Homo sapiens: one gene and its partners. The protein of the gene in region 7 purifies or fractionates together with the protein of the main gene of each other region. This does not show direct contact. Each region holds a gene or a part of one and is shown on either strand. Other genes may lie near its edges. The genes, in order: HAT1, CABIN1, CDIN1, UBN1, UXS1, UBN2 and CDAN1.

The links.
Region 1: the proteins of CDAN1 (region 7) and HAT1 purify together in Homo sapiens (affinity purification with mass spectrometry, with the first as the bait; one large-scale study listed by BioGRID). This does not show direct contact.
Region 2: the proteins of CDAN1 (region 7) and CABIN1 purify together in Homo sapiens (affinity purification with mass spectrometry, with the first as the bait; one large-scale study listed by BioGRID). This does not show direct contact.
Region 3: the proteins of CDAN1 (region 7) and CDIN1 purify together in Homo sapiens (affinity purification with mass spectrometry, with the first as the bait; one large-scale study listed by BioGRID). This does not show direct contact.
Region 4: the proteins of CDAN1 (region 7) and UBN1 purify together in Homo sapiens (affinity purification with mass spectrometry, with the first as the bait; one large-scale study listed by BioGRID). This does not show direct contact.
Region 5: the proteins of CDAN1 (region 7) and UXS1 purify together in Homo sapiens (co-immunoprecipitation; one large-scale study listed by IntAct). This does not show direct contact.
Region 6: the proteins of CDAN1 (region 7) and UBN2 purify together in Homo sapiens (affinity purification with mass spectrometry, with the first as the bait; one large-scale study listed by BioGRID). This does not show direct contact.

The regions. Positions count from the first base shown.
Region 1 is NC_000002.12:171,963,517-171,967,593, reverse strand, and holds part of HAT1 (histone acetyltransferase type B catalytic subunit), read right to left. Parts: intron 2,257-4,077; coding exon 2,077-2,256; intron 1,808-2,076; coding exon 1,686-1,807; intron 1,186-1,685; coding exon 1,081-1,185; intron 752-1,080; coding exon 645-751; intron 1-644. UniProt on the Homo sapiens protein: Histone acetyltransferase that plays a role in different biological processes including cell cycle progression, glucose metabolism, histone production or DNA damage repair. Coordinates histone production and acetylation via H4 promoter binding.
Region 2 is NC_000022.11:24,161,140-24,165,216, reverse strand, and holds part of CABIN1 (calcineurin-binding protein cabin-1), read right to left. Parts: intron 818-4,077; coding exon 654-817; intron 1-653. UniProt on the Homo sapiens protein: May be required for replication-independent chromatin assembly. May serve as a negative regulator of T-cell receptor (TCR) signaling via inhibition of calcineurin. Inhibition of activated calcineurin is dependent on both PKC and calcium signals.
Region 3 is NC_000015.10:36,656,045-36,660,121, forward strand, and holds part of CDIN1 (CDAN1-interacting nuclease 1), read left to right. Parts: intron 1-1,788; coding exon 1,789-1,861; intron 1,862-2,216; exon of another isoform or gene 2,217-2,250; intron 2,251-4,077. UniProt on the Homo sapiens protein: Plays a role in erythroid cell differentiation.
Region 4 is NC_000016.10:4,853,892-4,857,968, reverse strand, and holds part of UBN1 (ubinuclein-1), read right to left. Parts: intron 1-4,077. UniProt on the Homo sapiens protein: Acts as a novel regulator of senescence. Involved in the formation of senescence-associated heterochromatin foci (SAHF), which represses expression of proliferation-promoting genes. Binds to proliferation-promoting genes.
Region 5 is NC_000002.12:106,145,353-106,149,429, forward strand, and holds part of UXS1 (UDP-glucuronic acid decarboxylase 1), read right to left. Parts: intron 124-4,077; exon of another isoform or gene 19-123; coding exon 1-18. UniProt on the Homo sapiens protein: Catalyzes the NAD-dependent decarboxylation of UDP-glucuronic acid to UDP-xylose. Necessary for the biosynthesis of the core tetrasaccharide in glycosaminoglycan biosynthesis.
Region 6 is NC_000007.14:139,237,640-139,241,716, reverse strand, and holds part of UBN2 (ubinuclein-2), read right to left. Parts: intron 1-4,077.
Region 7 is NC_000015.10:42,730,333-42,734,409, forward strand, and holds part of CDAN1 (codanin-1), read right to left. Parts: intron 4,015-4,077; coding exon 3,894-4,014; intron 3,716-3,893; coding exon 3,606-3,715; intron 2,855-3,605; coding exon 2,765-2,854; intron 2,077-2,764; coding exon 2,001-2,076; intron 1,494-2,000; coding exon 1,288-1,493; intron 1,000-1,287; coding exon 879-999; intron 740-878; coding exon 593-739; intron 433-592; coding exon 266-432; intron 1-265. UniProt on the Homo sapiens protein: May act as a negative regulator of ASF1 in chromatin assembly.

The DNA of each region.
Region 1 (4,077 bases), on a different chromosome or scaffold from region 7:
TATCTGAAACTCCATCTAATAATGCCTTCTCCTTTTGAAGAGTCAAGTCGAGTAAGTCGAGTAAGTCGTCTTTCCTTCTCCTAAGCATTCTATTCATACTACTACTTCTATGGCTAATCCATACTGAAAGACATTTCCAAAACAAATAGGCCTACATTTCACCTTATCTACTACTGTTGTGAAGGCATGCATTTTAGGAATACAAAACACACACTTTAGGAAATGTGTATTCTATTCAAGAAGTATTTACCTTGACTTTTTTTCTCAGTAAAGTTTATAATATTCTGCCCCTACATGTAAATTAAAGTGCAGGCTGCCTCTAAATAATGCAACTGTTTGCCAAATAAAGTGAACAAATAAGTTATACCATACTTTCAACGTATTTACGCCTGACCAAGACTTCCCCATATATATTCAGCTCATTATCTTCAATTTGTTCCATTATGCACTTCACAGTTAGGGATGTAATCCAATCCCCACAAAGGCTTATGCTCTAAAACATAAACTTAAGCCATCTTTAGATGGCTTAAACACCCTAGGAAAATGTTGCTGTTTAAAATAGTTATTTCTGACAAAAATAAAATCAATCAGTAAGAAGACATTTTTAGAAAGGCTCTTTCAGTAACAAATCAAATTTTACATACCTGTAATATCAAGAACTGTAGGAAATTCAGTGTAGTATCTATGAACTGTTTCAAGAAGTTGAGCACCATGGCCTTGACCTTGAAATGGAGTCAAAATCAGCATCTGACTACAGTAAAGAAATTATTTTAAAATTAAAATATCATAACATGACCAGTTTAAAACCTGCAGATCACTATAGTATTACAAACACTTTAAAGTTTGTGTGATCTTTTTTTCAATCCACCTTTGAGATACCCAAAAATTATCAAGATACTCAAAATTAGTTTAATCTTCTACACTGTTTCAAAGGGAACAATGAAATAAATCAGTACATAGCCCATGAATAATAGTGATTTTTTTTTTAAACAAATCAACACTATTATAACAAGTATTGGAAACTTCAGCAGTTCCTTCTTCTGAAATAAAAGACAAGGCACGTGTTATACTGCCAATTACCTTACACGTGGCCGGGTTTTGTCTGGGTACACATAGTAATTATAGACTGTCATGTAGCCTACGGTCGCAAAGAGCGTAGCTCCATCCTTATTATACTTCTCAAATCTGCAGATAAAACAGAAAGCCAAGCAGGTCAATTACAGTCGCGCTCCCATGCAGTGTCCATTTTCTTTTCCATTCTCTGACTGAATTTTCAGTGTCAGCAAGCTACTCTGTGAGGGCCCAATGGGTACACCTGCTATGTTCTGAATGTACAATTCACTTAATTGGTGTGCAGCAACTTGGATAAATCAGACCTCTTTACATCACTTCAGTGCACTTGCCTATTATAAAGATGAATAGGTGGCAAGTAAAAGAAAACACAGGCAAAGCTCATTTTACTGTTTAAGCCTACATTCAGGGCCCTAACGGACAACAGCATTTAATTCAGCTCTATTCTCAAGGTCTCCCAAAGCATAATGAAGGAAAACTCAAGCCTCATAAACAATAGTTTTTCTTTCCTGGGAAAAATATCATTATACTGTCCCAATAATTGGGCTGCCACAATTAAAATGCTGGCTTTGTGGAGGTAATAAGGTCTACTGTTGCTTTAGAACTGTACTTACACTAGAAAGTAGTGCCATCTTTCATCATCCACGTCAATAAAGCTAGCAGTTTCAATAAACCACATCAAAAAGGTCTGAAGCCTTTCATGATATTCTCGAAAGCCTCTACATGTCATGTCAGCCTAGGGAAAAAGCCAGGAAAAGTCAGGTGAAACTCATCACAAAGGTAAGTGAAAGTCCGCAGAACACAAAATTATCCTGTGGGAAAATGTTTAGAAGTCTCAGATTAAGATGTGAACATAGATACAGACATACACACAAAATAGATCTTGGTTTATAATGCTGATTAAAACTTGTTTACTGCAGTTAGAATAAATCACTGACAACAAAACTACATACAGGTTTCAGGCAAATAGAACTTTACTCAATAAATATTTAGATTTATCTTTACCTTATATATCTGAAAGGTAAAGTTTTCTCCTCCTGTTGGACTGAGAACTGAGTAGGTATGAAGTAAGGTTCCGAATGGCTTGAAATCAACTTCCTTTTCCAGTAAAGAAAGGAAATCATTCGTGTTTGTGCAAAATCCAGGTGGAATGATTTGTCTAATTTTGCCCTCAACATCATCTGCCTAAAGAATAAAGGATATAAAAAATTAATAACAAATTCGACTTTAAGTTGAATATGGTTTATTTCTTTAAAACTGACAAAACCAACACAAATTACAAAACTTTGGTTGAAAACTAAAGAAGTAAACACACAGCGAATTGGAAAAGGATGAGCTTCCTGTGCACAAACTGCATCACACAAAACTGAGATGAGCATAATATAAAAGTAAATAAGAGAAGGCAGGTGACCTGATACCAAGTACAATAATAAGGGCAATGCTATGGACATTTCCATTATGCAGAAACAGCTGACTATACCCCTTCATGACAGTCTGAACTGGCCAAGGCAAAAGGTTGCTTATTATTTTATATGTGTCAAAGAAATCATATTATCCAAGACATGAAAAGATCACCAGCAGTGGTGAGATGAGACTAGAGTCTGACCAAATGAATAGCAATCTCACAACTAGATGGGTCACAATTCCCTCATATGCCAAACTCAAACTAAGATGATAACTTAAAAATATACATATTTAGGAAATAACATAAATTATATGAATGGATATATCATTCTTTTATCCTTAGAATGTGACACAATTCTTACAGACCTGGATTTGTGACAGTAAAAAAGAGACAAGACTGGACAACAAAACTAAACTCGGAGATTAAAATTACCCTTGTTAAACAACCTCTATCAATGTTATCAGCTGAGCAGACTTCATAATCCTTTTCAAAATCCCAAAAGACCACTTGATTGAATACATTTACTACTTCTCTTTAACCATGAATATTTGATGAAGTCTTACAATAAAGTATTGCTGCTTCTCACCAGGCAATAAAACTTAATGAATTGGTCTCAACTTAACAAAACCTTATCCCTCAATACAGTCCCTAAAAGCCTGACATTACATTCAACAAAATGAGCTTGTATTCTATTCAAACTTTTTCCTGAACAATGAGGCCAGGTTTTTACTTAATGGAGTTTGCCGTGAGTTCAGCTGTAATGTTTGTATTGTATCTATTTCCACAAGGACTGACACAAGAACACTTTGTGTTAACTTACTAAGCAGCTCTTTCATACCGTTTACATGCATGATGGGTATTAGTTCTAAACCAAGACCCTTGCTACTTAGCATTCAAAACAGGGAAATTAAGATGCTTAGGACAAAATACACTACAAAAGGCTAATACAACATGCTACTAATTCCTATCCTTTCAACCATCTTTTAACTAAGTAGAAGCAATGCACCTGCAGATGAATAGCACTTTATTATGATTCAGTTACATTTCAGGATAGAGAACCAGTGATGACGTTTATCACAAACAAGTTTTATTTTCAATGCTCTGGTACCACCAACATTTATATATAATTTGTTTATAGGTATAAAAAAGACCTATTATTGAAAATATAGCTCTTCAGCATTTTGCCCAACAGTTTATTTCTAATATGTACATCAGTCCTTGCAACTCATTCACACTCTAGATCAAATAAACTGCATTTCATAGGACAGTTTTTGCTTATTTTTAAAGTACTATTTGATAAATATTTTTCCTTGAAATTGCTAACATGAAGAGGCCATCGTAAGCATATTTTATAGTATCAGTACAATTTCAACAGCTATCAAGGAAACTGTCATAATGAGGGATAGCTGTAATAGATGTGTTGTGTAGCAATTAAAATCCAAAGTAGTGATGAGTAAAACAGTATAGTATGTTAGTTAAGGTTTTTAAAAAGCCAAGAAAAACTACTTTTAAAAAGGGATTTATAATCTATCAGTTTAAAAATCACTTTAAGACTTTCATAGCATGTATAATTTTAACTTTTAAAAACTTTCCTTATGTCC
Region 2 (4,077 bases), on a different chromosome or scaffold from region 7:
GGAGGCCCCTGAACTCCTGGCACATCGCCTGGCAAGTGGTAGGTGAGTGAGACAGCCAGAGGGTGAGACAGTGCAGGCATGGGAGGAGGCCCAGTCCAGCTGACGGAGTGAGGCCTCCAGGCCAGGCCCATCTACATCTGAGCTGCGTCTCTTCCAGGATCCCCCCAACACCCCCTGTAAATGGCAGCTGTAACAGATGGCTCTGTTATCTGTCCTGCCCTTTCTGGCGGAGAGCTCCCTGTTTACCACTGAGGCCCAGGCACCCCTGTCGCTCACCCCACTGTTACTGGCCTTTGTCTGGGGAACCACAGCTATCTTCTGAACATCTGTTTTCCCTACAACCTGACAGCACCCCGAGAGCCCTGAGTTGGGGGAAGCAGGAGGAAAGGAAAGGCTGGGTAGTCCAGAGTCTCAACGTGGAACCAGGATCAGTGGGGACAGGCTGTGTCTGCCCTAGGGTGCCTGGGGGTGGGAAGTGTTGTTTAGGTTCTAGACACTGGGACAGAGAGGCCCCCAAGGAGAATGAAGAGCTGGTCCAGGCTCCCAGCCAGTGGTCCTCACAGCTGGGCCAGAGCAGTGGAGAGGCTTCCTGGGGTGTGTGTGCCCCTGACCCACACAGCATGCCAGGCTGTGTCCAGGGTGGCTGCACTCACTTGCCCTGGTCTGGGGTCCGCTGAAGCATGGAGGACACCTTCAGCAGGGTGCTGTGGTCCCGCAGCTGGGCCAGCACCTTGAGCAGCAGCACGATGGAGCGGTTCATGTGCCAGGCAAAGCTGCCCGGCCGGTCAATCTCGTCCACGGGGATCCGCCAGATGCCCTGTGGGATGGATGGCACAGGTGTGTGAGGGGGGTGGTTGTGGCAGGAGCCTCGGGGACACCCTGTCTGGTATCCCCTGGAAACTGCCACAGTGCCAAAGGGGACACTGCCCAGCCAGGGGCTTCTTGGACCCCTCTCACTGTCCCAAGGAGACAGAAGTGTATCCCCACCCCCTTCCTTCTCATGAGTGGCAGCAAATGACAGACAGACCCACTGCTCTGCAGCCTCCTCTTTTGTATGGCTGCATCTCATATGTTTGCTGGACCTGTCCCCTATGGGATGCACTCAGGTGGGGCCTGATCAAACGTGAGGACAGACAGTGAGAGGCCCAGTGTGTACACCTCCCTGCACAGGTGCTTACCCAGCCACCAGACCATTTGTTAGAGGTGGAACTGCTGAGTCAAAGCAGGCTGCAGGGAAGCTCTGGCTAGGCTCTGCCCTCACCCACTCTCTCCAGCAGTGCCCAGAGAATCATCTGCAGCTCCTGGGATGCCTGGGGTCCCCCTCCCTCTTCCCACTTCTTGCCATCCTACCCCACTCCTCTTTGAAGGCTTAACCAGGGCAAAGTTGACTTTGGGGAGCACCCCCCATTATCTCCCTTGGTCCTTGCTTTACCTGCTGCAGCACTGGGCACCCCCTACCTATCACTAGCTCCAGGGCCTGGTTCCCTGCAGTGTCCTAGTGACCAGCATGGCATCTGACACCTACTCGGGGTCCAGGCAGGGTGTGGGGAAAGCAGGGAGTGAGTGATGAGGAAACAGGCATTAAGGAGGCCCATCTCTGGGGTGGGACCTCAGGGGCCTGGAATAAGTGAACTGGCTCCTAGATGGGTCCCTGCAGCCAACACGCTGAAGAAACTGCTGCCCAGAATGGACCAAGGTTATGAGTGACATTGCTTTCTCCTTGGCATGGGGCCTGGCCCACATCATGCTGCAGTATAGGATTCTGGGGACTTGGGCCCCCAGCTACAGGGACCACTGCAGGATGTCTAGGTGGTACCCCTCTCAGGGCCCTGTCCCTGTGGGTCCTTGCTGATTATCCACAGTATCTGTACACAGGTGTGGGCCCACCCTGCTCTAGCAGCCCTGGGAGGAAAGCCAGGGCACCTCCAGCCCTGAGCTGTTAAGGCCTGAGAGGAGTTTAAAACTCGCAGCCTTGAGACCCTGTGGCCTCTACACTGGCTCCTGTTGTGACATGGAGGGTCCACCTGCAGGCTGGGGGACTATGTGGAGGCCAGCAGCCACCTTCTACTTCCTGGCAGTGCCTGAAAAGGACAAAACCAGGGTACTGAGGCTATCCACATCCAGGGCAGCAAACATCAATGCTGCATCTTCCTACCATGCAGATGTGGATCCTGAAGCAGCTTATGAAAAGACACCTGCTTTCCAACAGACAGGGTCTATCTACAGTAGGCACCAGAATGGGCAGACACTGTCTCCTGGGTCTCCATCCGCTGTGCTGCAGCAGTACGTCCCGCTGAAGACCCTCCCATCCCTGCACCTCCCAGGGCACATAGACACCAACAGACACACCCGTGAGGACGGGTCTAGTTTGCATCACACACACCAGCACAGTTTGGATCCCTATCTCCTTTCCGTTTCCTTTTGTAACATAACACTGCTGATTTCAGAAAGGATGGAAGACCAAACAAATCAGGCAGTGAGTCCATGGAAAATCAGAAGGGAACCATAGACACCGCCGCCCGCTTGGCCACCCCCATGCTATTGTGACTCTCAAAACTTCCCCAGCCAGCCCTGAGAGGCTTGAAAGGCAGCATTTTACATTTGCATGTGCTCTGGTTTCATTCTGGCATCTTGCTTGGCCTTTTTCTGGTAACAGTGTGCTGAAGGGCACGTTTCCCGGGCAGGGTCAGGCCAGCTAGTGTGCCCTTGTTCATCTCTTTACTGTATCTTCATTCACATGCCCCAGTATGGGGGCTCCTATGTTTATTTACCTTGCACTGGGCACTATTCCCAGAAGCCCCTTCTGTTGTGGGCTTGTCCTTTCCCTGCCCCCAGGATTGGCCCCCTTGCCTGCTCGGCCAGGCCTAAGACCCACCACCAGCCATGGGAATTCAGCCAGCAGATGGGCCCCAGGATCCCAGTCAGGCTTCCCCTCCTAATGAGAGCCTTTAGGAATAACCCCTCTTCTCTGTGGCCTGGGGCGGTGTGCAGATGGACATACCTCCCGAACGGTGAGGGGACTTCCTATGGCCATGAGGCTGGCCTCCAGAGAAAGCTGGTCTGAAGAGTGAAGCCACCAGGCAGAGTCACGAGCCAGCAGGGTGGTAGCAAGCCAACTGGCTTTCTGCCTACACCAGGTGGAGCTGGGCTTCTGTGTTTGCAGCAAGAGACCCATGAGAAGGATGATACTGGCAGCCCCAGGATGACCTGGACACAGCGGTTCCCCACAGAGGGGCAGTAGCCACAGCAGCCCTCTCCCTCCACTGTCCCTCTAACACCGGGCCTGTGGAGGGCTATGAAGCTCCTAGAGAACCAAGGTGCTGAGGAGGGTCTCCTGGAGTGGGACAGGTACAAGGGACAGCCCCTGCTTCACCTGGTTTTCCTCACCACGGCCCACACAGGAGGAAGGGGCATGGCCAGGTTCCAACTGCCACAGCAGAAGCCCCACTGCATTCAGCCCAGGGACTCACGTTCGGGCCTCAGGGAGGGTGTGGAGAATGTGCCAGGGGTGAGCTTGGATAAAGCTAAGTCAGGGCCAGAAAAGAAGGGCATAGGCAGCAGTGACCAAGAGGCCTGGCTGAGGGCAGGTGGAGGGAGCCAGCACCAGGCCAACACCCCCACGGCATCTGAGGGAAAGGCAGAGGCAGGATCATAGATGGGCAGGGGCCATAAGTAGCAGCTGAGAGAAGCAGGGTCGCCGCGAGGAGGGTCTCCTCTGGCCCTCTCCTAGTTCTCCCTCAGCCCTGGGTCCCGCTGCTCTGGCCGTACCCCTTGCCTCGCCTCTCCCAGTTCCACAGGCACACTTGCTGTCTTCAGATTTGCCCCACTTGATTCCTGGGCCCTGGTGTCACCAGGGCTGGGTTCCCTGATGGCCACAGTGGCTGGGATAATGCTTGCTTATAGAGTTGAGGGCAGCTGGGGGTGCACACCAATAGCCTCAGAGGACTTAAAGACACTGAGATTGTGCTTGAGGCTTCCCCTCCATGCCAAGCATCTCTTTCCAGGCATCTCAGTCAATCCCCCAACCCTTCAGAACGGCTCTAGGCTCCTCACTGGCAGATGAGGTCACAGAGAGAG
Region 3 (4,077 bases), 6.1 Mb from region 7:
CTCCGTTTTGGCTACAGACTAGTACAGAAAGAATAGCACTTTTCTATGAAATTGATAATGCATTAGGGAAATTTAGGAATGGCTGGTACCATATTATAGCTTCTAAACAACCAAGGTGCCATTTTTTCCAGATAGGTAATACTTAGATAACATACACTTGCATCTGGTGACAATTGATGTGATGGTAATACTTTATGAGCTGATATTTATTTAATCAGGGGAAACTATAAAAATTGATGAGAAATATATAGCATTGGTACATTACAGGGTGCAGCAACTCTCTTAGACAAGAGCATTGTATTTTTATTATCTTTTTGGGGGGCTAAGGGCTGTATGTGGTCATCATTGATTTTATAAATGTCTTCATACTACTTTTCCAGTTTCAAGTCTAAAATTGAACATTTTAGCAATTCACACTTCGTTAGTGATAATAAGATCAGTCATTCTGTTCTCTCCACACAAATATTTTCAAGTGAGATTTGAAGCACTATGCATTTTATTTACATGCTAAATTCTGACATGAAGCATGATGGCCCTATTTCAGAGAAAGATGGACACATGATTAATATGAAAATTAGGGAGATGCAAGTACCTGAACTAATAAGGTAGTCCTTATTCAGGCTGGACTACCTTCAGTAATTTCACCATTTTTCATGTGTCAGCTCTGATGTGGGTTACTAGGAATAAGCAGCTTCGTGGAAAGCATTTCTTTCTACTTGGGGAATTTAAGGGCATCCAAGTACATACGTATTTGAAAAAACTGTTCATACAAATGAAGCCAGCCTTTTTGTCTAGTTACTAAATCAAGATAAAATTTTGGTATGAATACGGGACTTGAAAACCTGTCAGGAAAAATTCATGGTGATAATATATGAGGAATGTTTGCTGTCTTCCACCTAAGATAAAAAGACTCGTTTTAGGGAAGCATTATTGTTCTTAAAAATGTGTGTTCCTATTTTTTGGTGAAATTAAGTAAATGGTTAATAAAAGATTTAAGAACCCCAAAGAAGACAATATCTTTACAAAATAGTAGATACATTTTTTATTAATTAAAATGACTGTCGGACTGAATATCCTTTGTTTTCTGACTGGTTCTTTATTTTAAAAAGTTACCACCCTGGGATCTGTATTAATTAAATTGGTAAGTAGTGTTTCAGATAAGGACGGTGATCTTATGTTGCAGATATTATATTGTTGTAATTTATTATTAACATCTCTGCAATGTAGTTGTCTTTTATCAAATAAAATATTTTAAATGTAAGGAATTTATACCAAAATTTCAGTTGTCTTTAAAGATAAAATCAGTAAAATCCTTATTTGGATTTGTCATATAAGGACATTTGACTCTGTTTTTGAAAACTGTCACTAAATAACAAAAAGGGCTTATTATTTGAAATTGCATTCAGAACAGTATAAATATAGACAGTTGCATAGAAAGAAGCATGGCTTGAATAAAAAATTATATTGGCCTACCAACAGAAAAAATTGAGGAGAGATGAAAAAAGCCTATTTCACTGTTTTAGACGAATGCTTTTTCTAAGTTGTTCCATCCTTTTTGCTCCAATGTTATATTCAATAAATTTGACCCATTTATTCTTTTCAACAGCCCAAACCATACTTGTTATAATTTTATTATAATGGAAGCCACCAAGGGTGGGAAAGATTTTAATGAATGATGCTTGCTATGGTTGATTAAAATTGACTTATTCTTCAGTGTTGACAAAATACTGGAGTATCCACTGCTCGCACAACTTGATAGTTTTAATTTTCTACTTCTGTTTTATAAAGGTGGACTATGCGCCCTCATTAATGGCTCGGCTTATACTGGAGAGGTTTCTACAGGAACACGAGGAAACTCCACGTGAGTTACCCTTTTTTCCTAATGGTACTCTTTTACTCCCTTCCCCAATTTAAAAATAATTTACACAGCATTTCAAGTCACTTAATGAGAGCCAGATTCCAAAACAGCTATCATGAACAGTTAATGACAATTAAATGCAATATAAAAGACCACCCACAACTTAAATACTCTTCAGAATAATGCTCTCTTCTTTGTCTAAATTCCACACTCAACCTCTCCATTGAGCTAAATAGACAATGTGTATCAAACTAAAAAATTGATTCATCTTCGTATATAGAATAAGATACATCATTTGAAAAACCATTGTCAGGAACTGGCTCTAAAAGAAACATTCATCCTTTTTATTTTAATTCAGCAAGACCGGAGAAATACTACTTCCAAATGCAAAGGTGAATTCCACTGGTCTTCCTACAAGAAAATAAAAAAGAAAAAAAGAAAAGAATAGAGCTACAGAAGGAGGTTCAAGCCTAAATTAATTTGCCACTGAAAAAATACATTTTGTTATTTTCTCTGTGTCAACTGCATGATTAAAACCGGCTGTTAAGTGAGCTCTGGGGATGTGCTCGTAAAAGATTTATGAGTAATATTCAATGTGATATTCAAAGTGAGTCATGAATATCAGGATAATTGCTCTCAGTGCTGGCTCTTTTACTAGGCAGGAGTTTGTCAACTGCCCCATAAATATTTGCCTAGTCTCATGTAAAAAAGACAATTTCATCTTCTGCATTTTTATTACCTAGTATAATGTTTACCTTTGGAGCTCAGCTGTGGTAGAATAGGTAAAAAGCTTTGGAATATGCTTTATGCACATAATCTTCCCTCTTTGAAAGTAGAAGATAATACCTGCTAAAACATCATTCAGTAGTACATGTTGGATTTTTATTTTTTTATATTTTGTCAGGGATTTTTTCCCTTTGATTTTCTTTGAATCTGCAGTTACCAGTGACTGGTGGCCCAGTTACCTTGTGAAGGTTTCATTTGAATGAATTAAGTACTTCCCCTAAAAATTCAATATCATTTCAATAGATGTAGCCTCCAAAGTAACCTGCAGTGATGCTTCATGAGCAAATCACATGATGTCAGAATGGTATGGTTTCGATTTAATCAAGAAAGAGATTAAAGTGGATGTGTGTTATTTTCAACTTCGCAGCAGCACCGCCATTTGTCAAAGTCAACCTTCTGATTGCTTTGGACCTACTGCTATCCAGGTCTTGTCAAAATAGTAGTCAGCATAGTCTGAAGCAGGTAGACTGGCCTATATAGAGCAGTATCAAACACAGTAAAACAGAATTCATTGACTTGTGAATTATGAAGTTAATAGGTTGATCATAAATTTTGTAGCCATTAATTTATCTTTATAACACTGGCACATCTTCAGTACATTTTTCTTTTTATTTTGTACCATTTTATACAGCAGAGTTAAATAGTACTGAATATAATTTTGATGTGTACTGTATATCAGAATCCTATAATTCCAATGCTAGGATTAAATGTCTTGCATGAATACACTGGAGAAGGACATGAGCATATTTAGAAACATACCAAGGAAAGGGTATTTCAAGAATGTGGCTGCTTGGAAAGGAGGCGAATGTAAATATTGTATGCTTGAATTACACTATGATTATGTATAATCAAATAACAGTATTTTGAAGCTTTTTCTTTTATAATTGGTTGGGTTAATGGTTGTTTCACTGTGAGTTGTTACAGAGTCAGGTTTTGTTTTTTTTTTTTTTTCCTGAGTAAAATCATGACAGATATTTGATGTTATTTTTAATCATCATACTAGGCTATTGTGAAGGCACCATTTTAACTCCCTATTTGCCAGTAGGCTGACTGCCAGTCAAAAATGCTGTATTAAAATATTTCTCTGGACAGAAAATGGTTTCAAAAATCTTTTATGATTATATGACAAACCATAATTGAGGGTTTATCATTTCAAAAAGTGACAGAAAATGTTAAAATTAATGCCAGGTTATAGAAGTCAATTAATTTGCTGATGGTGCTAGGTTATCTTCCTTTCTTTTCTTCGTCTTTTTCATTCTCTCTTTTTCCTTCCTTTTCTTTTTTTTTTTTTTTTTTCTTAAAGAACTTTAAGTTACTGTGGCTTATATTCTGACACTTTCTTCCCCTTCAGAGCATGGGCCTGGCTGGCCTTTGGCAATGAAATTCAATGCACATGGCTCCGCAGTCAAATCATCAAATTTCCCTGTGTGTAT
Region 4 (4,077 bases), on a different chromosome or scaffold from region 7:
AAAAATAAGTCAGAAAATATTCCCATGTTCTTATTCATAGAAACTTCACTGATTACTCAATACCTCTATAAAAACAATGTTTTCCAGAAAAGGGCAAGGTAGAAAACATGCTACCATCTCATCAATGTTTATCTTAATTAAGAAAGTAAAATTTCCCTTAATGTAGGTTAATAAAACTTGATTGAATGCCTACAATCATCCACCACAGCATGAGGGGCTGCAGGACTCAAAGACAGCAAAGGGCCTTTAGAAGGAGATGCCCAGTCGCTACACAACCACGTTCAATAAAGTGGACTTCCTTTGTAACTCTTAAAATTTTCTTCAGGCATTTAAAAACATTCTAAGAAAGAGTCCATTGACTTCCAAAATAGTCAAGGGCTCAAAAACGTGAAAATCCCACTGAATGTGGTGCAAGTTCTTGAGAGCCGTTCTGCCATACTGTTTAGAAAGGTCTGAATTTGCACTTCTCTCGGTGCTACCAAAGTTAAACTCAGGCTTCCAAGGCTTATTTCCATTTTATAAGCTTATTCTTTTCTCATCAAGCAAATTTTCCACAGATAAGCCTTAAGCTTTGTGAGCAAGGAATCCAAAAAAAAAAATTTTTTTTTTTTTTTTTTGAGATAAGAGTCTCACTCTGTCACTCAGGCTGCAGTGCAGTGGCACAATCATGACTCACTGTAGCCTCAACCTCCCCAGGCTCGGGTGATCCTCCTGCCTCAGCCTCCTGAATAGCTGGGACTATAGGCATACAACACTATGCCTAGCTAAATTTTTTTTTTTTAAGTTTTTTGTATAGATAGGGTTTCATCATGTTGCCCAGGCTGGTCTCAAGCTCCTGGGCTCAAATGATCTGCCCATCTCAGCCTCCCAAAGTGCTGGGATTACAGGCGAGAGCCACCACACCCAGCCAGGAGCCAGGAATCCTAATTTTAATAAGACTCCTGTACGAAGTATGTTTAAGACTTCAAGGTAGACAGAAAACACTAAAGACTGTATGCCTGTTTCAAACAAACTTTCTTATCTCACCCTCCCATCTCTGCCTACTGAAATACCACCTGCAAAGGATCAGTTAAATGATTTGTGGTGTACACATACAATGGGATATTATAGAGCATACATCTAACGATCATACCTCAAATGGGGAGTCTTTCAAACATGCTTATCTGGATCTTCTAATTTTTCTACAATGATCGCATATAACTTGAGTGGTTATGTAACTGTAAGAAATCCCACCAACCTTGAGCAGCACTGGATTCTATGTATACTACTGAACGCCTTGCCAACAGCAGTCTTCCAATAACTACCATTTCCTGACTGTATGACGGAAGGTCCAGCTCTGTCCCAACACTAATCAGGAAATAAGCTCTCTTCTTTCTAAGACCTCCAGGGCCTGTGTCGTACCAGACTTAAACAATGACCATATTGTAATTTCTGTTACCTGCGGTGGTACCATTCTCTCAAAACATCTATAGGATGTTTGTTTTGAGGCTGGTACAGTGTTTTCTCTAACTTTCTATAGTCCTCTGAGTCTAGCACAATGCCTTCATACTATTAAGGACTATACACTAAAAGAACTGCTGCACAAATGTGCCTGATTTTATTGTATTTTTAACACTGCAGAGTAGACCCACGACGATTTAGGAGTTCTGAACCCGAAGTCCAGGACTGAATCCTCTGAATTGGATCAAAATTCTCTGTGTATCCTCCATGCATTTTTCTGCAATGGTGAAGGGCATCTGTAGTCCCCAAAAAGGTGACATCAGAGCACTGGAGTTCTAATTTCAGTTGACCTGCTGATTTGGTTTGAACCCATGAATAAACACATTAACCAACTCCTGCTCCTGTCTCTTCCTCTAAAGGAAGAAGATACCATTTTCCTGAAACAGGAATTATAAAGGGATTTGAAATTACTTTCTGTCATTCTGCCCAGTGGTGCTCATGCAACAGGCTGACCCTTGGTACAGACTCACAGGCCTCCATTCTGGCAATCAGGCAATCAGATCTCAATCAAGGAAACACTTTTTCTTTTTTGGTTTGGTGTTTTTTGGTAGGGGGAGATGGAGTCGCCATCACCCAGGCTGGAGTACAGTGGCATGATCTCAGCTCACTGCAATCTCTGCCTCCTGGGTTCAAGCAATTATCCTGCCTCAGCCTACCGAGTAGCTGGGATTACATGCATGCACTACCACACCCGGCTAATTTTTGTATTTTTAGTAGAGATGGGTTTTTGCCATGTTGATCAGGCTGGTATCAAACTCCTGACATCAAGTGATCCGCCTGCCTCGGCCACCCAAAGTGTGGGGATTACAGGCATGAGTCACTGCGCCAGGCCTTCCAGCCTTTTTTTTTTTTTTTTTTTTTTGACACAGGGTCTTGCTTTCACCCAGTGCGGTGGTGTGATCACGGCTCACTGCAACCTTGACCTCCCAGGCTCAAGCAATCCTCCCACCTCAGCTTTCTGAGTAGCTGGAACTTCAGGCATGCACCATCATGCCCAGCTAATTTCTGTATTATTTTGCACAGATGGAGTTTCACTATGTTGCCCAGGCTAGTCTTGAACTCCTGTGGTCAAGTGATCCTCATGTCTCAGACTCCCAAAGTGCTGGGATTACAGGTGTGAGCCACTATGCCAGGCCAAGAAAACACATTTTTTTAATCTCAGGAAAAAAAGATTAATCCTTCTAACCAAAAATACCCTCCGAACAGCACACCTGTGAATAAGACCGACTGATCACTTGGCACTGAGGCATACTGCTAGAAAATTCACAACATGATTTCATTCTCGTTCCACACTCAGACAACTGTGAACCAATTACCAGCCTCATCCCCATTTCACTAAGAGACATGCTAGAGACCACAATGCTGCGAGTGTGGGGCCCACTTACCTTTTCCTCAGAGCCTAGCACAGTGCAAAGGCAGACACAGGTGCTTAAAAATGCTTTTCACGGGCCAGGCACGGTGGCTCACGCCTGTAATCCCAGCACTTTGGGAGGCAGAGACGGGCGGATCACGAGGTCAGGAGATCGAGACCATCCTGGCTAACACGGTGGAACCCTGTCTCTACTAAAAATACAAAAAATTAACCAGACGTGGTGGCGGGCGCCTGTAGTCCCAGCTACTCGAGAGGCTGAGACAGGAAAACGGCATGAACCGAGGAGGCGGAGCTTGCAGTGAGCCAAGATTGCACCACTGCATGCCAGCCTGGGCGACAGAGCGAGACTCTGTCTCAAAAAAAAAAACAGCTTTTCACCTAGGCGGTACTCAAATACCATACAATTCCATCTACATAAAATACAAAAACACGGCCAGGTGCGGTGACTCACGCCTATAATCCTAACACTTTGGGAGGCGGAGGTGGGTGGATCACTTGAGGTCAGGAGTTGGAGACCAGCATGGCCTACATGGTTAAAATGGTAAAACCCCATCTCTACTAAAAATACAAAAAAAAAAAAAAAAAATTAGCCAGGCGTGGTGGCTGGCACCCGTAATCCTAGCTACTCGGGAGGCTGAGGCAGGAGAAACATTTGAACCTGGGAGGCGGAAGTTGCAGTGAGCCAAGATTGCATCACCGCACTCCAGCCTGGGTGACAGAGTGAGACTTGGTCTCAAAAAACAACAACAACAACAAAAAAGAGAGGCCAGGTGCTGTGGCTCATGCCTGTAATCCCAGCACTTTGAGAGGCCAAGGTGGGTGGATCACAAGGTCAGGAGATCGAGACCACCCTGACTAACACATTGAAACGCTGTCTCTACTAAAAATACAAAAAATTTGCCGGGCGTGGTGGCGGACGCCTGCACTCCCAGCTACTCGGGAGGCTGAGGCAGGAGAATGGCGTGAACCCGGGAGGCAGAGGTTGCACTGAGACAAGATGGTGCCACTGCACTCCAGCCTGGGCGACAGAGTAAGACTCTGCCTCAAAAACAAAAAAACCCCACAAATCTAAGCAGATCTAAGCTGTTAGAAATCAGGGCAGTGGTTGCCCATAAGTATTGAGGTAGTCTTCTGGCAGGGCAGAAGGAGGGTTTCTGGGGTCCTGATAAATATATTTTGTGACCTACGTGCAGGTTACATGGGGG
Region 5 (4,077 bases), on a different chromosome or scaffold from region 7:
CCCTGCGCCTCCTGTTATCTGCATCCGGACAGCGTGTGCAGAGCATTCCCAGAAAAAGCACATGAGAACACAGTGAGGACCAGCTCCACGGAGAGACATCTCTGGTGCAGCCACGACTTAAAACTCAGGAGCAAGGCGGGGAAGGAAGACAGCAAAGGTTTTAAGGTAGCATCTTGACTCTTACTGCAGAACAAAGAGGTCATACTATCTGTAAACTCCTAAGCAGCCTAAAATTTCAAACTACCAGTCTTGGAAGAATACAGAAAAATCATAGTTACAAATTTCAAAATGTCTTTGCTGACTGAGAATTTCCCATTAGTCAAAGGTTCTTGTTTTATAACAAATGGGATGCTGGACATAGCTCACGTGGCTTTAATATTACTGCTGAGAACTTTAAAAATTACTTTATAGAAAAAACGATTAGCAAAATGCAGAGATTTGGTGAACTACCAAGAAAAAAAAACTTAATATTTAAGTTAGATTCAAAAACTGCAGGAAAAACAAATATCTTTTAAATTGTTTATGAGAACAAATTAATAAGCAATACATGCTGTTTGTAGACTAAAGCCCTAAACGCCTAAGTCCACTGTGTGGTTAATTTCTGAATGGTGATGTGAACCCAGTGTGGTATACACTCCCAGCCACAGAGCACGATGAGGCAGCTGTGAGGGGTCTTGACGGTAACTCAGTAATAACAAAACCTAGACCCCTGCAAAGGTGAAAAGTCAACTGCGCTTGAAAAATACTTTTAAGTTGAACACAGGTATTTTATTCAAATTAAATGGTGTAACTGGAGGAGGATAAAGGGAATTTCATCTGGGGGAAGGTTATAGGCGGTGGGAGTGAAAAGAATAGGCTCAGAAAACAGACGTGCCATGCACAACTCAATTCTCTAGCCTGCTGTATCCTGTTCTCCACTCTGCCTTCTCTTCACCAAAATTCTCATTCATTTCACCCTTCTGTTTCAAACGGAAAGTATTAATAGGAAGACAGCAATCCTTTCTACCTAAAATAAAAGGTATACAAACTCCTAGGTCTATGGTTTTAAAACATGTAATTCTCCATGAAACTCCTGTTTAAAATAAATGAAATCTCACACACGATGAAGTATTCACCACGGTGAGAGAGTAAAGCCACCTGGATTTGAGTGGAGTGGTAGCTCATGCCTGTAATCCCAGCACTTTGGGAGGCCGAGACAGGTGGATCACTTGAGATCAGGAGTTCAAGACCAGTCGGGCCAACATGGTGAAACCCTGTCTCTACTAAAAATACAAAAAATTAGCTGGGCGTGGTGGCACACTCCTGTAATCCCAGCTAGTTGGGAGGCTAAGGCAGAAGACTCACTTGAACCCAGGAGGCGGAAGTTGCAGTGGATCGTACCACTGCACTCCAGCCTGGGTGACAGAGAAGACTCCATCTCAAAAAAAAAAAAAAAAAAAAAAAAGAAGCCATCTGGATGAAAAAGATCAAAAATGGCAGAGGAGAAGTAAGGGGAGGCTATAAACTAAAAATGAAATTTGGGTTGGGTGCAGTGGCTCATGCCTGTACCCAACACTTTGGGAAGCCAAGGTGGCTGGATCATTTGACGCCAGGCGTTCAAGACTAGCCTGCGCAGCATGGTGAAACCCCGTCTCTACTAAAAATACAAAAATTAGCTACACGCCTGTAATCCCAGCTACTATGGTGGCTGAAGCACAAGAATCACTTGAACCTAGGAGGTGGAGGTTACAGTGAGTTGAGATCACACCACTGCACTCCAGCCTGGGTGACAGAGCGAGACTCTGTCTCATAAATAAATAAATATCCTAAGTCCCCCAACTGAGTGGGCCCCCTCTTGGCCAAACGGAACCCCAGAGAAACCTGAAAAGCTGAGTTCCCAGCAGTGATGTGAAAGGAGATTGGACATGCCTCACTATACTTTCTCTTTTGGAATTTAGACACAACTGACCAACGTTAATATTAAAACAGAGATCATAAACAGGACCTAGGGTCGTGCCAGACAGGAGCTAAGTCACATCCCTCCAAGTCATTCTGACCCAGTGTATTGGTGAACAGACTTCCTTGTCATAACTTAGATTCCTTTCTGCTGACTCCAAAGTTTTACACAAAGATTTACTCCTTTAACCAATTACAAAGTAAAAAATCTCTAAAGCCAGGGAGGTCAAGGCTGCAGTGAGTGGCAATTGTGCCACTGCACTCCAGCCTGTGTGACAGAGAGAGACCCTGTCTCAAAATAAATAAAATAAAATACAGAATCTCTTAACCCGCCTATACCTGTGAGCCCCCACTTCAAAATAGCCTGTCTTTTTGGGCCAAACCAATGTAAAAGCCCTATATATTGATTTATACCTCCTTGTAACTTCTGCCTCTCTAAAATGTATAAAACTAAACTAATCCGCCTGCCTCGGGCACACTTACTCAAGGCTTCTTGGTTTTGTGTTTCCTGGGGCTGCAGTTACTCATACTGGATCATAATACACCTCTAAAATATTTTAGAGTTTGGTTTTTCAGTTAACAAGGCCAACCTCAAGAATAACCATCCCTTAACCACCACATAGATATTACATATGCTCTGATGAAATGCAAATCAAATGGTTAAGACAGGATGGGTGAGACCAGGCATCCTCATGCTCGATAGCTTTCATTTGGCTTTACCAACAGCACCATTTTCCAAATCCCCTTTGCCTTCAAGATAAGAAACTGACACCCAGAGAAGTTACGTCTTTGACTAAAATCCTCAGAGATCACTAGCTGGGACACACTAAAGCTACAGTCTTTCTAATTACACGCTCTCTACTGCCTGTCAATTTGTCTGGTTCGTGTTTCATCTTAAGAGCTCCCACATTCTACTGCTATACCTGAACAATGACTATGAAAAACGATTTTCCAGAAAAATAATTGAAATTCAAAGTTGACTCACCACTAGAGCTTAACTCACGGGATGAGATTTCATTTTATCTTCACGTTATTGCATTTTTTCCAAGTTTTCCATGATTTTTACATTTAAAAACTTGCAACTTTTAAAAAGAAATGTAACCCCTTTTAACATAACTGTTTCTCTATATGCAAATATTTCTGAAAACAAAATGTTCAGTGGCACTCTAACATTATCTCTGCACCCAAAATACCTGGCAGACAGTTCTGAGATATCAGAGATGCAGCGTATTAAATTACACATGATCATCTCCAACATCTCACTAGTCTTAGTACTGACGTAAAATTGTTGGAAGCACCTTAGCTTGACTAAAATGCACTGGAATTTTTTTTTCTGAAGTAATTTCCTTCTACCTAAAATACTTAAGATTTATATAATATAGCTGGATGGTTATGCAATTTTTTATCCTAATCAATGTTAGCCCATTAGGCAAGTGTTTCAAATAGAAACAAATTTGGTGAAAGCTTAGCACTTACAAAGCTCTATCAGGAACACTAATCACCAAACCCAAGGATATTCTTTGAATAACAAGGAGCTAATACCCAAAAGAGAACAGGAGAAAAGAAGTAAGACCTCTTACACTGAGATGGATTAGAACTTACACGGCTTTGCATGGCTTTCCAGTATAGGGGTTTGTCTCAGTGTGCTTTCTTGCTCGCTCTTGTGGGTGCCAATAGGCAGCTAAAGTGGTCTAGTTCAAGGTCAGCAGTCAAACTCATGATGCTTAGCAAATTAGCAAAAAATCAAAAAATGTATTTCAAAGCAAGTCTCCTCTTTCTGTTGAAGCTGTCCTAAGGCTTACCAATTTACTGAAAAGGCTTTAAGTTATAGCAACAATATACCAGACTCACATGCCAAATGCCTCAGAAATGTGCTTAACCTATGAGATGGCAGATGAGGGGAAAAAAAAAACTAAGTCTGTTTGCTGTGGTGATGTGTAAAGCAAAATAAATTCTATAATACTCAGCATCGACAGGAAGATCATTCCATGTGCACATAATAAAATTCATGGCAAGATTTTGCAGCATTCCTGTAACAGTGCTGCTGTGCTTTTAACGTGTCCACCAAAAGCACATTTTGGTAATTTAATCCCCAGTGCAACAGTGTTAAAAGGTGGGGTGATTAGGCCATGAGGTGAAGTA
Region 6 (4,077 bases), on a different chromosome or scaffold from region 7:
CTGATTTTATTATTCTTATTCTTATTAGAGACAGGGTCTCAAGAAAATCAAGAGTATTTAGAAGAATAATTTGTCTTTGAGTGAAAACAGTGTTATTCCATTTGGTCAACTGTTTTATTTATAAGACTGCTCAGAATTACTTTTCTACTATCAAATCTACCCTTACCCTTCTTTTTAAAAGAAGTATGAAACTACTAGGGCTCTGAGAGCCCAAAACCACATAGAACTAAGTGTGAAAGATAGTATTCAAGGTCTATATAGCACAGTAAGCAGATTTTAAAGTTATAATGTGATTTCATGATTATTAATAAATGCCTGGCAGAATATATGTCTTCCTATTCAGAGAGTCATTCAGATTCAAAGAGTCTTAACTGAGCCCCTGCTAGGCACAAGGTATTGTGTTAGGTGCTTTCATTTAGATTAGTGAATTTATATCCAATTCTAGGACAGTATGATCTTTCAGAACGGCTGGGGTAATGGAGTGAGAAAAAAATCACTAAGAGAAATCTTCCAACAATTATAGGTTATCCTATGTCCTAGAAGGCTAAGATAACAAGTCTATACCCATCAAATTGAAGCATCCTACTCCTGAGTATAGAGTATAGGTGGCCTCATAAAAGGCATATATTACCTACAGACTATCTAAAAACTGAATTGGAAACCAAGATGTTTTGCCTAAACATTTTGGAGCCTTAACTGGGAATAAAGAGAGGCATGGGAGCCTCTTTTACCTGTATCCTGCCTCCTTTCTAACCATCAAGACGAATCTGGAGCCTATACGGTTGTAGAAATGTCAAAACTTGGACTTAGCTATTTAAAAAGATTTATGTACAACAACCAATTTAGTATAATCTAGGTAAAAATAGGTACTTAATAGTCATATTGACCTTTTCCCAAAAAACCATTTAGTAATTGATGCTGAATATGAACTGTCACATTACCTGAGCATAAGAACAACATAACAGGAAACAGAACATGGCCATAAAAATAGGACACAATGGAGGGGGGAACCCCATAAATTCAATGCAGGGTGCTCTTTTTACAATTTTATACTCCCTGTAATTTCTGATATCACTGATCTTCAACTGCTGCAACACCTGCCCCAAACACCAATAAAGATCATTGTAGTTTAAGAGAGAGATTTTGTGATAGCCTAGAGCTCTAGGCATATAACGCCCAGCAGGACAATGTATCTTCTCTCAGGTCACTTTTGGCCTGATGATTTTCTTAAAAGATTCCAAATAATTATTTAAAAAAAAAAATATATATATATATATATATATATATTTAGGCTGGGTACAGTGGCTCATATCTGTAAACTCAGCACTTTGGGAGGCTGAGGCAGGTGGATTGCTTAGGCTCATGAGTTTAAGACCAGCCTAGGCAACACAACAAGACCCTGTCTCTACCAAATAAATATATATATACATATACACACACACACAATACTCATAGATATAACACTTGGGCATGCTTTTTGGTTAATATACATACAATCTCTAATTAGAATGGAAATAAGACAGTAAGTCAGCAAAATAAAAATCCAGAGAAGAAATATAGCCCATTAATTTAGACTATAACAAGAGTAATATTTTATCACTGTAAACAAAATAACAAGGCTTAAATATATCTAAGTCAATTGAAACTCAATTTCACGCATCAAACAACTTCTTCAGAACGCTGATCTTTCTATGCCAGATACTATCCTAGGGTTGACTAAGAAGACTTAATGCTAACTTTAAGGTAGTGCGTCATATACTGAATCACTTTACTTATAGGATTATATATAGGAATTTTTCCATTTGCAAAGGGCAATTCTAAAATCCTTGATTTTGTAACCCACAGCAAAATAGACACTCTAGGCTGGGCGCAGTGGCTCACGCCTGTAATCCCAACATTTTGGGAGGCCAAGGCGGTGGATTACCTAAGATCAGGAGTTCGAGACCAGCCTGACCAACATGGTGAAACCCTATCTCTACTAAATACAAAAAATTAGCTGGGCATGGTGGTGCATGCCTGCAGTCCCAGCTACTTGGGAGGTTGAGGCAGGAGAACTGCTGGAACCTGGGAAGTGGAGGTTGCAGTGAGCCGAGATAGCGCCATTGCACTCCAGCCTGGGCAACAAGAGTGAAACTCTGCCTCAAAAAAAAAAAAAAAAAAAAAAAGACACTCTAATATAGTGATGGAGGGAGTAGAACTGGTAATTTAGTAATATATACTAAAATTATAAATGCATAAATCTTCCGACCTGAATCGTCTGATTCTAGGAATCTCTCCTAGAGATAAACTTGAAATTGTGTAAAATGCCATTTTACAGACTAATTTACTGCAGCACTATTAATAAGGGCAAATTTTTGAAAGCAACCTAAATCATTTGGGGACTGGTTACAGTGTGATAGTTCCATGCAATGAAACAGCATGCAGCCTTAAAAAAAAGGGAGAGAAAGCACTTTGTCCTGATATGACCCCCCCAAATATACTAAGATACAGTAAATAAAAAGCAAAGAGCTTAAGTGTGTACAATTCTATAATATGTATAAAAAGGGGGTGGGAAAGGAATAGATGTGTATGTATAGAGATGTATCTCTAGTACCACAGGAGTGTTACTTGCCTAGGAAGTGGGATTCCATGGGTGGGCAATACAATAAAAGGAAGATTTTTAATTTTTGAATTTTGAGCCACATAAGTGTACTAGTTGGTTAAAACATTAAGTGTAACCAATGTATAACTTGTATAAAAAACACAGTATTTTAGGATTTATACATGCTAGGATTTTAGGATTTATACATCCTATAGGATTTTACAATTTATACATCATGATACAATATAGTCTCAAAAGATTACACTGTAATTAAATACTACAATGCTATTCCTTCTATTTAAACACCCACCAGTCTATCCCTAAATTTATTATTATATAGTCACAGAATAGAGAACAATAGGGTCTCGGAAAAATCTGAACCTCTCAATTTATAGATAGGAAAACTGTACCCTTGGCCAGGCCCAATGGCTCACGCCTGTAATCCCAGCTCTTTGGGAGGCCAAGGTGGACAGATCAGTTGAGGTCAGGAGTTCGAGACCAGCCGGGCCAACATGGTGAAACCATCTCTACTAAAAATACAAAAATTAGCCAGGCATGGTGGTGCATGCCTGTAATCCCAGCTACTCAGGTGGCTGAGGCAGAAGAATTGCTTGAACCCAGGAGGTGGAGGTTACAGTGAGCCAAGATCACACCACTGCACTCCAGCCTGAGTGACAGAGACTCTGTCTTAGAAAAAAAGAGAGAAAAAGAAAACTGTGGCCCAAAGCTAAAAAACCTCACCAAAAGGACACAATTAGCAGATGGCAAAGTATGGCCTAGGACCTGATTCCAATTCCAATCTATTCTCATCTACTTCTTCTACCTTCAAATGGTTTCTTAATTACCACAAGGAGCCAGCACATATGGGTCAAGATCCCTGTTGTATCTTGAGGGTACAAGGCCCTCAATGACAAGGCCAATGTGAGCTGATATCCTTTCTCCTGTGGGATACTTTTCAATGCTCACAGAGGAATCAGAGGGGTAAGGTGTTGCTTCTCAACTGGGTTATGTTTTAGTAAAGTGCCAAGAGTACTCAAAGCCATAGTGTAAATGTGGGGTGAGGAGTGGGGCTTTCTACAAATTTAGTAATACTAGAAAATTTGAGAAAAATGTTAAGCAACTTAATCAGGTAATTAAAAATTGTTTTTGTATTCAAACAAACACCACTATATTGTGGCACTGAATATAAAATGTACATGAATATTTAGCATAAACCGGACACTTTCAAAGAAGTCTCATGCTGGTTCTGAGTCTGACGCAATGAGCTTAGAAGTACACACATTCACTCTCAAACTCTTAGGAGGCAGGAAGGTTTCAGAACTACTATACCAAAGGAATTAAAATAGCATTCTCGATGGTGGCGGAAAGGGAACAGAGTTAGAGCTACACAGACCTGGACCTGTAGCCTACTCTTGCCACTGTGTGACACTGTATCAGCTACTTAATCTTGAACTCAGAGCCTCAGTTTCCTCATCTGTAAAATATGGTCAATATTA
Region 7 (4,077 bases):
GGCAAGCAGGATCCCCCCAGCCCCGCCTCCTGCATGGGGACTGTCTCTCAGCGGGGCCACCTCAGGAACAGCATGAGGCCAATGAAAGTGCAGATGATTTCCCACTGTACCTCAGGGGAGCCAATCGTGCCTCTCCCAGGGCTCAGTTATGGCCAGGGCCCCACACGCACAGTGCAGACTGCTCGACCCTCTTTATTAATAGCAGGCTTGACCAATGTCCCGAGTCCCGAATCCTTTCATCAAGCCTCAGCCTTGTTCCACTCACCGGTGCAGGCGCAGCAGGAGAGTGAAGATGTCCCGGTAATATTCCAGCAAGGGAACAACATGGTCAGCAAAGGAGAGAAACTCCACCAGCCAGGGCACGGTGAGCACCGCCCGGCGGGCCTGCAGCCCTCGCTGCAGCAGAGTCCGCACATCCAGGACCGGAGGGACCTGGGAGGGCCAGAGCTCAGTCAGGGGGCAGGTCCCTAGGAAGGGCTGGGAGATGCCCTTTAACCTGCCTGGTTTCCAGAATAGCCAAGGAAACCAGTCAGCTTCAGTGCCTGGCCGGTCCTCCCTGCTCCCTCCTCACCAGAATCCCCCGCCCATTCACCTGGCTCCTGAGGGCCAGAATGGAGTCCTGAAGCTCACCGGTCGGGGGAGGTTCAGGCCCCCGGTATGGCAGGAAAGCCACAAAGCCCAGGAATTTAGCCAAAAGTCTCAGGCTAAGAAGCACCACAGCAAATTGCTTCCGCTCACCCTGCATGGAATCAAGGGAAGTAAAAGGTCCAAGCATGAGGCTTCCAGAACAATTCCCGATCTGTTATAAAGTTTTTCTTGAACATACTCCCTTCCCTCCTGGGTCAGACCCCATTATTTCCCTTGTTCTGTTTTCGGACCTGCCAGTCTACGTCTGACTCCCCGTCTTCATCATTGGGCTCATGCTGGGGCAGGGCAAGACCATTGAGCTCCTGGATCTTCAAGCTCAGACTGTCCATGAGATGCTGGTTAAACTGGAAGCTGAGAAGAAGGGGTGGGTGGGGCATAAGCACTGGAAGAGGTACAGGAAAAGCCAGAATCGAGAAGGGGCACTCCAGAGGGAAGGGAGCAGCAGGACAGACAGGGAGGCCCAGGAGCAATGAAATCACCCACGTGGGTGACAGAATGAGAAGTGCAATGAAGCCAGCAAGTTGGAGCTGGAAGGAGCCTATCTCCAGGCAAAGGAGACTGGAGAACTATTTACCCTTTTGGGAAGCCAAACCTTTCCTGGCCTCTGCCCCATTCCTTGCAAGACACAGGGGAGCCTACCTGCTGGCACTAAGGATGAAGTCCCTAAAGAAGCCTTGACAGCCTGGGAAGGTGGGGGGTGGGCAGGGCCCCCCACTGCTCTGAGGAGCCATAAGCCGTTCCTGTAGGCGCCACAACCGCCCCAGCTTGTCAGCTCCCAGCATACTCAACACATCTGGGGCCTCGCCCAAGACGGTGCCCCCAGCACCACCAGGGCTCTGACACATCTAGGGTGGAAGAGGAAGGAGAGAAATTAAAAAAATCAGCAAGTGGGAGGGAAGGACTGAACAAAAAATAAGGAGAAAGTAATGAACATTTAAGGAATGCCAACTGTGTCAAGTGCTTTAGATAGATTTTCTGAGATGTGAATTACAGTATTGTTTCACAGGTGAAGAAACTTAAATTCCAAGGTTAAGCATGTGCCTAGGGTCACTAGAGCTAGGATCTGAAACAAAGCTTGACTACTTACTAAGCCTGGGCTCTTTACCACAGCACAAATCAGGGAAGGCAGCAGCAGGCTAGAGGAGCTGCAGGGCCCGGGATGTGTCAAAGAGAGTGCCCTGGCTTTTCTGTGGCCACTGGAGTTTCAGCCACTCCGCGAGGAGTAGAACTCTTGTTCAAATTCCAGCCCAGGACCTGCCAGGCTGTCTGCCCTATCCCAAAGTGCAGCCGTTAAGTGGCTGCCTGTGATGCCTGCTGTTTAATGTGGATTAATCTCTTGCTGGGGCTGTTACCTGGAGTAGTTGTTTTTGGAAAAGCCGAACAAAGTGGCTGTGGCTGCAGGCTGCGGAGAGCTGACCCATCATGGCCCTGAGGAATAGAAGGCAGGAATGAAGGGTGTGGAAAGGAGGGAGAGGGAGAAAGATCTGAGAGAAGCAGCCAACCCCTGGACTTCCCAGCCGTTTACCAGGGACTTGAGCAGACCTCAGCCAGAGCCAGCCTGCAAAGGGACACTGAAGGCAAGGGACACTCCCTCAGCACCAAGGTCCTCCGAGGCTAGAGGTGCACTTAACCAAACAAGAAATCATGCGACCACACCCCCCGACCGTCTTCAGCCACACTAACAGGCGGCGGGTTTCATGAGCAATGTGAAGGGAGATGACTGGACTGAGGTTCGCGTTCTGAGCCCAGGCATCTACCTGCACAGTGACCAGACTTGCCCAAATTAGAGGATGGAGAAGATGGAGGCTGGATGTGTCTAAGCAGTGACTTGGGCCAAAAAAACCTCAAGCAACCTGAGTTAAGAGCTTTGGACTTTCTAAGCAATTGCCACTACAGAACAAGGATAAGACACCTGTGAGTGGAAGGAGCTGGAGAGACACATCCCTTTCGAATAGAGGCAGAGTTATCAATAACTAAAGAGATTTCGGAGGATAGTAGAAAACAGCTAATGGCTGGTAGGAGCGGGGAAAACCTTCCCTCCTCCTCCCTCCTGCCACCGAGCAAGCACTGAGCTACTCATTGCCAGGAACAAGAAAGACAAGGTCTGAGCACCCACCTGATTCTGCTGCCCAAGCCCTTCTCAAAATCCCAGCCAGGCTCCTCATGGTGATCTTCCCACTCTCGCAGCACCTCATAAAACACATCCCTGACGCATAAGAACGCCTGATCAGCCGAGGCACTCACTCCCACCAGTGCCTTCCTGCCCCTGGAAGAACTATCCGTAGCCCACCCACCACCTTTTTTTTTTTTGGAGATGGAGTCTTGCTCTTGTCACTCAGGCTGGATTGCAATGACGCGATCTCAGCTCACTGCAACCTCCGCCCCGCCTGGGTTCAAGCGATTCTCCTGCCTCAGCCTCCAGAGTAGCTGGGATTACAAGTGCCCACCACCACGCCTGGCTAATTTTTGTATTTTTAGTAGAGACGGAGTTTCACCATGTTGGCCCGGCTGGTCTCAAACTCCTGACCTCAGGTGATCCGCCCCTCGGCCTCCTGAAGTGCTAGGATTACAGGCGTGAGCCACCACACCCGGCCAGCAGCCCCATTTTTAAATTTCTCCAGAGTTCTCTATATGATGACAGTAGTGCTACAGACCAGCAGCACATTACAGGCTTCATGTACTTCTGTGGGCAGTGACAGTTCATCCTGGCACACTCTTGCTTGAGAACCCTGAGACTAAAACCATACACCTGTGAGATGGCTTGCTAAGCGCCGGGGTTCACAGATGCACATGAGAATGAAGCCAGGTGGTCCCTATGATGGCCGGCAGGAAGGACCTGGGGGGACTAACCCACCACCTGTTGGTGCCAAACTCCTAATTTCTATGAAACCAAACAGCTGCCTATTCCAGAAAAATGTCATCTCATTCCCTCCCCAAAAAGTCCCTTTTCTTATCACCTCTGTTTCTTAAAAGTATGAAAGGCTCGGTCACTGGAGAAGTTGGCACGATTGTCAGTCTCTGGCTGAAAGGAGACAGCTTGAGTAGAGGGAGGCATCACCAGAGAGACCTAAAATACAGCAGGAACGTTAGGAACTGCAGGGTCATGCTGAGAAAACTTCTCCCTCTTATTCTTGCCCAGAGTTAGCTCACATTACACTGAAGTGTCGTCAGCAGGGTTGCCTGAATTTATGAAAGCTAGGAAGGGTTAGGTCCAGGCTAGTGGGCAACTAAGCTGGGGTTACTACCTTGGCAACACTGCCCTCATAGGCAGCTCGAAGGCGGCCTTGCAGAGCTGGTGAGAAGCACAGCAGCCGCTCATTCTCAGCCAGCAGCTTCAAGGTCCCTTTGTCCAGGTTGGAAAGAACCCTGCAGGGACAAGAGCACCTATGACTGAGACCAGAACACAGACTGCAAGTAGGAAGCAAGCAC